Regions from separate parts of the Homo sapiens genome. Here region 2 is linked to region 1. The links come from fine-mapping of genetic effects on gene expression. A gene starts in region 1. The other region holds a variant in brackets. All regions are shown on one strand. Distances are from middle to middle.

Region 1 (5,384 bases):
ACATGTACTTATGATGACACTATTGGGTTACTATTTCAGGTAATTTGCTTTAAAATTTAAATTGTGAATTGAAAGAAGTATCATTACTCTCCCTATTTAAATGCTGAACAGCAACAATAATCACTCACCTGATTTCATTTCCCAATTTGAAAATTTCTCAATTGTTTATCAATGGGTAATTCACTTAAAAAATTACAAAAATATTATCTTCTATTTGAATCTCAATAGCAACAAACAATGCCATATTGAAACAGCTGTGACTTAAATAAGAATGCCATTCTCCTAAAATCGACATACTTTGAATTACAAAATAAGACACATACATTTATAAAAAATATTTGGAATTGTTAGATTTTATTTCTAAAGTTAAGTTACACTTCCATATAAAAACGTTTGCTTCAAATTTTGAAAAGTGATTTGAAAAATCAAGAGATATAGCATTTAGTATTTATATGTGATTTCTGTATCAGATAACTCTATTAATGCATAAACAGAAGAAATACAATGAAGGTTTTTCACTGAGCATTGAGTACTGTAATTTGAAAATAATAAACTAATAATGTTCTAGTCTCATAGTGAATTTGAGGATTCAGAATATTCCTTTATATAGGAACTATCGGAAGCAGGAGGCAAAAGATGGCAGCAGTGAGTCGTTCCAAGATCTAACATTATACATGTTCATTTTGCTTTATTTTTCAATATTATCTAATTGTGAATTGAATAATATCTTAAGTTACAAATTATTCTAGAATAATAAAAGTCATAAATGTTTCAATGAAATGGGGCACTGAGCAAATGAAATCAAAGCAGTCCAGGACATTGGACTTTACCACTCTGCTTCCTAAATAACCATATCACACCAGCCCCAGCCCCAACAGTATCTGTAGGGACTGCCTCCAGCTCATTTCCCAGACACACAATTAGTTGATAGAATTTGTCATTGCTCATCTCGATAGTAACTAAAAAACGTTAGAAAATTATTTTCTTTACTTAGATCTATATCAGGCATAAAAGACACATATATTACCTGTGGATAGCATCTACACATCTACCTCCATTTTAATCTAAAGAGTAACTGATGTCCCCTCATCTCCCTTTCCACCTCCCCACTGACTTCTTGAGTTAGAAGATGCAAAGAGAAAACCAAACGATAGCAGACTGACAGAAGCTCAGGTGGGAACTAAGAACATCTCTTGAAATATAATGTGGCCTAATGGATATGGTGCTGCTAATTTGTCTTGTACCACGTACTCAGTGTAATTGAACTGCCTTTCTGAGAACTAAGATAAAAATTACAATTAAACGTGTGATGAAAAAAATGGTCTTGCATGTCTTCCCTCACAGGACTCAGGATATTTTAATATCAAACTGGCTTTAAGACACTTGGAGTTAGCTTGGAGAACTGTTTTTTGCAGGTGAGACAAAGCCTGTGTGTGCATGTCCACACCTGGGGTAGGAGGAATAAAAGCGAACATTTGTACTGTTGTCAATAGTCTGCTTAATCTGCTCCTCCTAGCAATTATTTGTTACCTATTTAACCTCTGTACCGCTTTTCTCCTTCACTCTTACTTCCATTTATATTTCAACTTACTCCCAAGTATAATAAAGAATAGACTTGAATATTCAAATCATTTAAGTTTGTTGGATAATCTCTTTCAACACAAAATAGAAGCACAATGTTACTGAGAATCGTAAGCACCAAATCCCTTTTATTACAATTTCCTGCATTCTGTCATGCTTATTTGTGTTTCAGAAACAAGCTCTGCGGGGGTGGGGGGGGTGGGGGGGGTGGAGGAGATCACAACCTCAGACAGTCTGCGGTGTTCAGGGTCATGCCCGTGGCATAATTAGGAGGAACATTCGACCTGGCCCCTGGGCAGGCTGTGCCCTGCTTGGCTTGGCTTGTGAATGCAGCAGACGTGAGCCCCGTCCTGACTGCTGCTGAATCAGAGGGACAGGGGCGAAGGCCCAGAGGCCTTCCTTGGCACATGTTTTGGGTTTCGTTTTTCAACAAGACTTTGAATACGGTGATTCCACTTGCTGTATTTCACAGCAGGCTACGCATGGGGAAGTCCCGATGGGGTCAAGGAGCAGTCAAGCCAGGAGGTGATATGGAAAACTGATTTGAACGTGAAGAAGGCAATGCGAGATGCACTGGAAGACTGTGGGGAAGGATCAGGGGAGTGGTTCACTTTGAAATAAGGAAGAAAAGGAGGAAGAGAAGGTGGCAGAGATGCAGCAGAAGATACCAAGAGAGGAGGACAAGGTGGCACAAGAAGGGGAGGAGAGAGAACTTAATCTGCTCAAGTTCCAGACTGGGCAAGGGTCTTTCTTGCAGGAAGTTTACAGACATTCCAGTTTCAAATCTGAAGTGATTTTGCCTAAGGAGAAACCCTCACTACCCGCCAAAAACATGCCATCTGAACAGGGAAGGTGATGGCAAGATTGGGCAGGTGCTGTGGAGAAGACCTCTGCTGGACTTCGTGCCTCCTTAGCTCTGGAATCACAGGATCTGCAAGAGCATCTACCTGCGCTCACCAGCACGTTCCGCCAGCCTCCCTCCCCCAACCCACCTGGCCACTCTAGGACCCCTCGCACCCTGGTCCTTTGTTGCAGGCTGACATCTGCCCCACCAGAGTCAACTGTCAGCGCCTTGCACGTGAATTAGGGAAGCGGAGTAACCTGGGGTTCCATCCCTTCCCGGGTCCCTTCCAGCTTTCGCCTAGCTCCGGAGCATCCACCCATCTCAGGTCCAGGGCGTGCGTTCCCAAGGATGCTCGGCCCTCTCCCAACCCGCGGCCTCCTCCCCTCTCTCCCGCGGCTGCCGCTGCTGCCGCGAAAACCAGGAGAAGTGGAACGCGCGCGGCGAAGCGCCGCTCTCGCGGCGGCACTGGGCATGCTCCGCACCCGGGGCCGGTTTCGGCGGCGGGGCGGACGCTCCCTCACTAGCCGGGCGCCCGGGCCGGCCGCCGAGGTTTAGGTGGAGGCTGAGGCTGCCGCGCGCCGCGGGAGGAGCCTCGCCCTCGGCGGCTGAGGCGGCGGCGGCACAGGTGGCGCGGGCCGCGCGCGGGGCGCAGCTCGGGAGCGCTCGGCGCCGGGCGCCGCGGCGGCCCCAGGCTCGCGCCCGCGGCGACAGCCGGCTGAGCGGAGCTGCGGGCGCGGCGGCTGCTCTCTCAGCCCGGCCGGCTGGCGGCGGCGCCCGGAGCCCCGAGGAGCCCGCAGGAGCCCGTGGAGCCCGCGGAGCCGGGCAGGGGGCGCTGCGCTCGCCGAGCTCGGAGGGGCCGCCGGGCCGGGCGCTGCGCACTCGCGTCGGGAGCCGCCTCTCGCCCGCGGCGCTCGCCCCTGCCGCCCGCCAGCATCCCTTGTCCCGCGGCCGCGCTCAGACAACAAAAGCGGAAGATGCTGCAGTTGGGCAAGGTCAGGACCTTGCCCTGAAGCCGGGCGGCGCCGCGCACGCCTCTTCCCGGACTGAGGAGCTGTCGCCGGCGGAGGGTGCATGTTTGCGAGGAAGCCGCCGGGCGCCGCGCCTTTGGGTGAGTTGCGGGGCTGGGCGGCCGGGGCCGGGCGCAGCCTCCTCCCGGCGCCGTCCTCCTCCTCTTGCCGCTGGTGGGGGTGGTCCTGGGCTCCCGGCCGGCAGGCGGCGGCGGCGGCTGCTGCGGGGTTTCTGCCTGCCTCGGGGAGGACCGCGATCGCGCCAGGTCCCCCTCGGAAGCCGCTGTGCCTGGAAGGGGGTCCGGGGTTAGTGCCTTTCTTGGAGCGGTTACCAAGTGGCTGCCCTGCGTGCTCCCCCTCCCTGCCACCCATCTCCCCGGGAGGAAGCGTATTTAGGGCAACACCGACAATGCTGCTCCCCGCCACCCTGAGAACATACTCGGTGCATTCATGACGTCCCTAATATACGGGAGGAGACGGGGTGGGGGTGGGGAGGACTTCCCTCCAGTCTTTTGCCCTTATGTTCAATGTCATTACGATGTTTGGCTAGAACAAAATGGAAAGACTTAGTCATATGCGTCCATGGCCGTGTCTTCAGGCTCCCGCGGCTTGCCAGACCCTGAGCCCCCTTGGTCTATATTTAGCGGCTTCCCAGCAAGCCTTTGCAGCCGGCTTCACAGGTTTCGGGGGCTTCTGCGTGCTGACAATAGACAGCCAGGCTCCAGAAAGCGCCGCCTGAAAGCCAGGTTTGGAAGGCTGTGCGTGTGTATGGGAGATGAGCGATGCAAAATTGGGGTGATCCGTAATTAATGGCTGAAAGCGAAGCTGCTTTTTTCTTTTTTTCCCGACCCTCATCTTATTCTGGTGTGTAGTGTGTTTTCTTCGATTGCCACTCGGCAGGTTGAGCCTCTGCTTTCAGAATTAAGTCACTAGAAAGGTGATGCAGCCTCCCTGGTGTTTGTGGTAGGAAAACAGACTTGGGAATTTTTGGGGTGTGTGTGTGTGTGTCACAAATAACAGTTACTTCCAAAATGCCCAAAGTTGTATTTTGCTGTAACCGTGGGGGTATGAAGGGTGTGGGAGATGAGAGATAGAGGGGCAGGTTGTGTTTCCAAGGTGTTTTTTTTTCTTTTCTTTTCTTGTGTGCCTCATTTGAGCTGATCTGATTCGCCTTAGCTCTGGCAGGTGTTATTAAGATGTATTTTTACTGTGCTCAAGCAAATATGTTGATTTAGAAAACAGAGAATGTTGTCAGCATAGTATTAGGCCTGACAGGTGTAAATTTTCACTTTTAAGAACTATGTGACCAATATTTAAGAGTCTTGGGATTTTCTGCAGTGACTTCCATGAAAACAAGGAGGTGCTGAAACTCCCTAGGAGTTATCTCATTGTGCATACTTCATCAGGGGCTGAAGCTACCGAGGGCAGTCCAGCTGGTCTCTGCTGCTGGTCATTCACCTACATAATGACAAGGCTTCGGGGCTGCACCACTTCTAAAATCCCATGGAGAAGTGTTTGCTGTGACTCATATCAAGTTATGGCGGTGAACCTGTCATTATTTTGGGGATTTCTGCTACGAGACGTGTGATATATAGGGGCGAGTATCCTCAAATACGAACTAGATGCTTTAAACTGCCCTCAAATGTCTTTTATTAGCATATGGTTGCCATACGGAGAATGTTCCTACTGTTGTTGGGGAAAAATGTTAAGTGGCATCATTACTGATCTGTGGGTTCCAAGGGCTCAGGGCTTGAAGGAAGACGATTACATTCGGAGTTAAGTGTTGAAATTTGGGAGGCCTTTGATTACACTAATCACAAGTCAGTGTTGCAGGAGGACTGGCAAGGTCTATACGGCTCAAGTTGATTGAATACTGTGATTAGTCTTTAGCAATATTGCTTTAGTTTCACCTTATTCACATTCAGGGAACTTTCCGAGAGCACTTTGAACAC
Region 2 (5,384 bases), 75 kb before region 1:
CTCCTCCTTTTTGAGTATGGGTAGAACCTCTAAATATGATGAGATAGCAATCCAGTGATTATGTTACGTTATATGACTGAGTTGACTGTAAGAAAGACAATCTGTATGGACCTGTCTGAATCGTGAGCCCTTTACAAGCAGAGAATGGTCTTCATGTGGTGGCAGATTAGGAGGTCAGAGAAAGTAGAATGTGGAAGGATACTCAAACCAAGGAGATTATTCATTGTTGACTTTGAAGATAGACAGGGCTGCATGGAAAGGAACAGAGAACAGCCTGTAGGAGCTGAAGGGAACCCCAGTCTCACAACCAGCAAAAGAACAGAGACCCCAGTCTATAGCCACAGGAAACAAATTCTGCCAACTACAAGAATGAGCTCTGAAGGGGATCCTTCCCCAGAGCCTCCAGATGAGACCTTTGCTCAACTTGGATTTCAACCTTGTGATACCCAAACAGAGAACCACTCACGTTGGGCCAGACATCTGATTTAAAGAGCTGAGGGATGACAAACGGCTCCTGCTTTCAGCCACTCCATTTGGGTAATTTGTTACACAGCAACAAAAACTAAAGTCCCCAGGTCAATCACCTTAACGTCCAGAGGCAAATTCTCCTGGAGAGTCTTCAGTGTTTAGACAACCCTGGACAGAGATACGCTTCTGTGCAGTAGTTTCAACCTTTGGAATTTTTCTAATGGTATATTTAACAGTAGGTGTTACTGTTAAAGATATACACACACATATATAGACACATGGATGCATATATAAAAATATATATGCATATATAAAATATATATTAAAATATTATATATATAATATATATAATCCATCTCTTAGGATTGCTTTGTCATTTATTGCAGCCTGGCCCCATTCCCCCAAGTTGGTAGCTAATGATCTAAACCAGAAGTTCTGTTTTAGTCCATTCAGCCTGCTAAAACAAAATACAAGAAACTAGGTGGCTTCAAAACAACAAAAATTTCTTTCTTTTCTTTTCTTTTCTTTTCTTTTTTTTTTTTTTTTTCTGAGATGGAGTCTCGCTCTGTCGCCCAGGCTGAAGTGCAGTGGTGCGATCTCGGCTCACTGCAAGCTGCGCCTCCCGGGTTCACGCCATTCTCCTACCTCAGCCTCCCCAGTAGCTGGGACTGCAGGCGCCCACCACCAAGCCCAGAACCTCGTCTCTACTAAAAATACAAAAAATTAGCCGAGCGTGGCGGCGGGCACCTGTAGTCCCAGCTACTCAGGAGGTTGAGGCAGGAGAATGGCTTGAACCCAGGAGGCGGAGCTTGCAGTGAGCCGAGTTCACGCCACTGCACTCCAGCCTGGGCAACAGAGCAAGACTCCATCTCAAAAAAAAAAAAAAAAAAATTTCTTGTGGTTCTGGAGTCTGGGAAGTCCAAGATCAAGGTGCCAGCAAATTTGATGTCTGGTGAGGGACTGCTTTCTGGTTCATAGATGGCGCCTTCTCACCCCGTCTTCAGATGGTAGAAAGGGTGAAAGAGCTCCCTCAGGCCTCCTTTAAAAGGGCACTAATCCTATTTCCCAGGGCTGTGCCCTCACAATCTAATCATTCCCCTAAAGGCCCCACTTCCTGATATCATCACCTTGGGGAGTCAGGATTTCAGCATGAACTCTGGGGGGACACCAACATTCAGACCATAAGAAGTTCTGTAAGTTTTCTGGCTGGTTGACTGAAAGGTCAGAAGTGTTTCCATGATAATACTAAGACCTTAGTTTTTTGCTTCACTTATTCTCTCACAAATATACAGTAGACTTTTTCGGAGGCCATATTGTGTGCAATTATCACAACAGATTTAATGCAGAGGCAGCTGAGAGATCTAGGTATCTTCTAGCGAGGCAGACGTTTTTTAAATTAAAACAATGCCACTCTTCCCACAGTTATTTCTCATTTTGGCAAACATGATTGTTTTCTATAGAAATGTTATTTATCTTAGCATGCAATAGATGTTCTACCGCTCTTTTTAAAATACTTAATTGTACATAATGATATTTATAATTTCTCAATATTAATTGCTTACATGGGAAATATCAACAGATGCAACCCATTAAGCAAGTTTTTTTTTGAGTTCTCGATATTGTTTAAGAGTATAAAGTAATTTTGAGACCAAAACATTTGAGAGTTTCTCATCTAAATCCTTCCTCTTACTAGATGCATTCATAGTTCACTGAATGAATAAAATAGATTTTATACTGTACTACTGGTTGATTTTGTGACTGTGAATTCCTATACCTTTTATTTGAAAGTACTCTAGAAAAATGCAGAACTTAAAATAGGCATACCTTTGATCCAGCAGTCCCACATCTGAGTATTTAGTCTAAGGAAACTAAGTTGTTATAGGAGAGAGGGGGGAAATCTTAGTAACTGTATTAATCAGGGAAGGTTAAGCTTATATTCTTATAAGAAAGAAATTCAAAATATTGATGATTTAACAAATGAAAGGTTTAAATCTCGCTCACACTGTATGTCCACAATGAAACTGAGGGTACTCTGCTACAAGGACCCACCCAGAGACCAAGGAAAAAATAACAACTATTCAGAATATTAGTTTAGCTATAAATATATGAGCTCCATTATGCAAAAACTAAGTCACTGACACATTTGTTATGTTAGCACAATATTCAAATATACTATACTAATGTTGTGATAAAACTCAACTACTTATGTGGAAGAGGTTAGAGAGAAGTCATAGAAAAGTATTTGATTTTTTAAAAAAATACAATCTGAAGTGGAGGTCTACATTATTGTCAGTTGCTTATTCTCTTATTTCATCAACCTAAATATCTCATTTTCTTTCCCTTTGAATAATATTCTGCAAAATGTACCCATACTTGTCTTTTATATCAGTTGAGTTTTAAAGGAAATGTGTTTTAGACAGGAAATTTTGGATCATGTTCAAAAAAATAACATTTTTGCAAAGTTGCTTTGACAAATAATTAGATTTGAAATGTGTATTTAAGTTTTAGACTGGCAATTGCTGCCTAGCAGATATTTTAAGC[CA/A]ATAAAGCACAAGTAAATTGTACAGATGACAGGTCTAAAAGTTCACAACTTTTTATCCAACAGTCTATTGTTGATGGAAGAAAAAGTAGGTGACATTTTTGAACAGTGGTAAGTTTTTTAAAACATGAGATTTTCAATTATTTTTTCAATCTAAAATTCCACTTTTTAGGTAGAAGACAGATACCAGCAATGTTTTTCATAAGAGTTGTTAACATGAGTTACATGCTTAAATCTGAAAGTAACCCATCAATCACATTTATATATATCACAAAAATATTATGACTCCACCAAAAAATAAGTCTAGATTCTCAAATCATCTTTCATATCAACTATGCTTATCAAGGAAGAGTTATTACAAAAATAGTCTTTTGAAGGTCACAGGTATTTGAGTTTTCCTAGATGTTTATTCATACAACCTAAAATATGGCTTCTGCTGACATGGCTTTGCCCAGCAAACCAAATTACACAATACACAATGTTACCAAAGCCTGTTTTTTGCTTCATTGTTGTTGTTGTGTGAAATCAAAATATGAAAACACAATCCTGATTTAAAAAAAAAAACTGCCATTTGACAAATGCCACAGTAATAATTATTGCAAAGAATCATAAATAGGATGCTAAAATTAGTGAGTTAAAAAATTGTAAGAATCAGGATATTTGCATAGCCTCAAAGTATTGCCCCACAAGATATTAATTAGAAACCACATTACAGTGGTTATGCTTGGAAGACACCAGCAAGTGATAAAAGGTAACCAGTAATAAGATGGAGAAGGTGACGTGTTCTTCCCAATATCCTACACTCAGAAGGGTAGACATCCCTTTGTGGTATTTGTGCTAAAAATAGATAATCTGAATTTAATCGTAAGGAGATAGCTGACAAATCTGAATTCAGAGACATCCAGTTAAATAACCAATACTTCACAAAGGTGTCAGTCAATGTCACAAAAGACAAAGAAACAGCTGACATTTGGGAGGACTAAGGAGACAGAACAAATCAATGCAACAGGGATCCTGGATGGCAATCTGGACCAGTAACTTGAATAGATGGTCAAAACATGAGTGAAGGCTGTAGATTAGTCAATGGCATTGTATCAATGTTAATTTCCTGGTATAATTTCCTAGTACATATGACACCAAAGGCTATGAATAGATATGTTATGGAAGAATTAACATGGCAAATAAAGTTATAAAATGATGTCCAAATTCACTCACAGGTAAAGGAATGAAATATAAAATGATATTGAGAGCAAGCTTTACAAATCAAATTTGCAAAATTTAAAAACAATATATGAATAGCATGTAGGTGAAGGGTTGGGAAACAGGCAATCCCTTATATGGTTGATGCGTTTGTCAACGGGGATAACATTTTGCATGGCAATTTAACAGTATCTAGCAGAATTTCAAAAACACATGCTCTTTTATTCAACAGTTCCTCTGCTAGGAATTTACAGTACTTGTCTATTCTCAACAGTATCCTAAGGATGTCTATTTCCTGATAGTAGAAACTCCATGAGCAAACAAATTGTTTATCCCCTGCCAAGTTCTTAGGAGAATGTGGCACATACTCAGTGCTCACTACATGCTTGTTGAATCAGTGAATGTATGAGTCAATAAATGAATCAATCAATCAATCAATTGTAGCATTGTTTGCACAGCACAAACTACATACACATGCCCATTAAATAATCTATGATACCTCATGTACTATATAATATATAGTAGTTTAGATGTCTTTTTAAATAAGAAAGATCTGTGTATCTGATTTTCTAGATATTCAAGTTTAATACAAAGCCAGCTCTTAACTATCTATTGACAAAGCTTTACTCAATAAATCAGTATCATTTTTTGGTTTCCTTTTTATTGTCCCTTGAACCCATAATGTGGGCCATTTATTCCATAAACTTTGGATGAAATTTGCCGAGGTTTCATAACTTTTCCAGTCAGAGACAGATGACAAAAAGACTTAGGGTCATTTTCAGACAAGCAACCTTCTTGTTTTTGAATTAAAAGTCCTATGGAGTCAATTCCATAGTTTTCCCATTTGAGACTCCCTCTCACTCCCAGCTGAGGCCTGCTTCTGGGAGTGTGGGTTGGAGGAGGAACTCTGGGAGCCGGGAAGAGTAGGCATCCTTGCCCTTCTTCTTTGCTACTCCCTTCCCTATAGTGGCTCTGAGTTTTCTCCATGAGAAGGGGGACAGGAGGAGGGAAGGGGCTGAGGGCCAGACACAGATGCAAGCCTGGTGGTGACCTCTGGATGTGGCTAATATCCCATGGTGATTTTGTTCTCTCTTGTCTTCTTGGGAGGCTCTCTTGTGCTCAGACTGGACATTGCCTGGTACCAGCTTCCCCTCACCTTCTGCAGGTCTGGGTCTCA

Direction of the effects. Alleles are on the strand shown, and positions count from the first base shown. SD is a standard deviation of normalised expression in the study named.
As copies of A replace CA in region 2, the expression in coronary artery of the gene that starts at base 2,904 in region 1 goes up (moderate effect, 0.70 SD a copy in GTEx).

The links. PIP is the estimated chance that this variant, and not a neighbour inherited with it, causes the effect.
Region 2: its variant is fine-mapped to the expression of CTNND2 in coronary artery (GTEx, PIP 0.95).

Annotation. Positions count from the first base shown.
Region 1 is chr5:11,901,966-11,907,349 of GRCh38, reverse strand. CTNND2 (catenin delta 2) reads left to right here and starts at 2,904. Exons shown (of 22, transcript NM_001332.4): 1 at 2,904-3,533. The coding sequence starts at 3,497.
Region 2 is chr5:11,976,673-11,982,056 of GRCh38, reverse strand. No RefSeq gene overlaps it. Among named protein-coding and RNA genes, the nearest start is that of CTNND2, 75 kb to the right of the region's middle. The variant CA/A (reference allele first, on the strand shown) is at 3,010.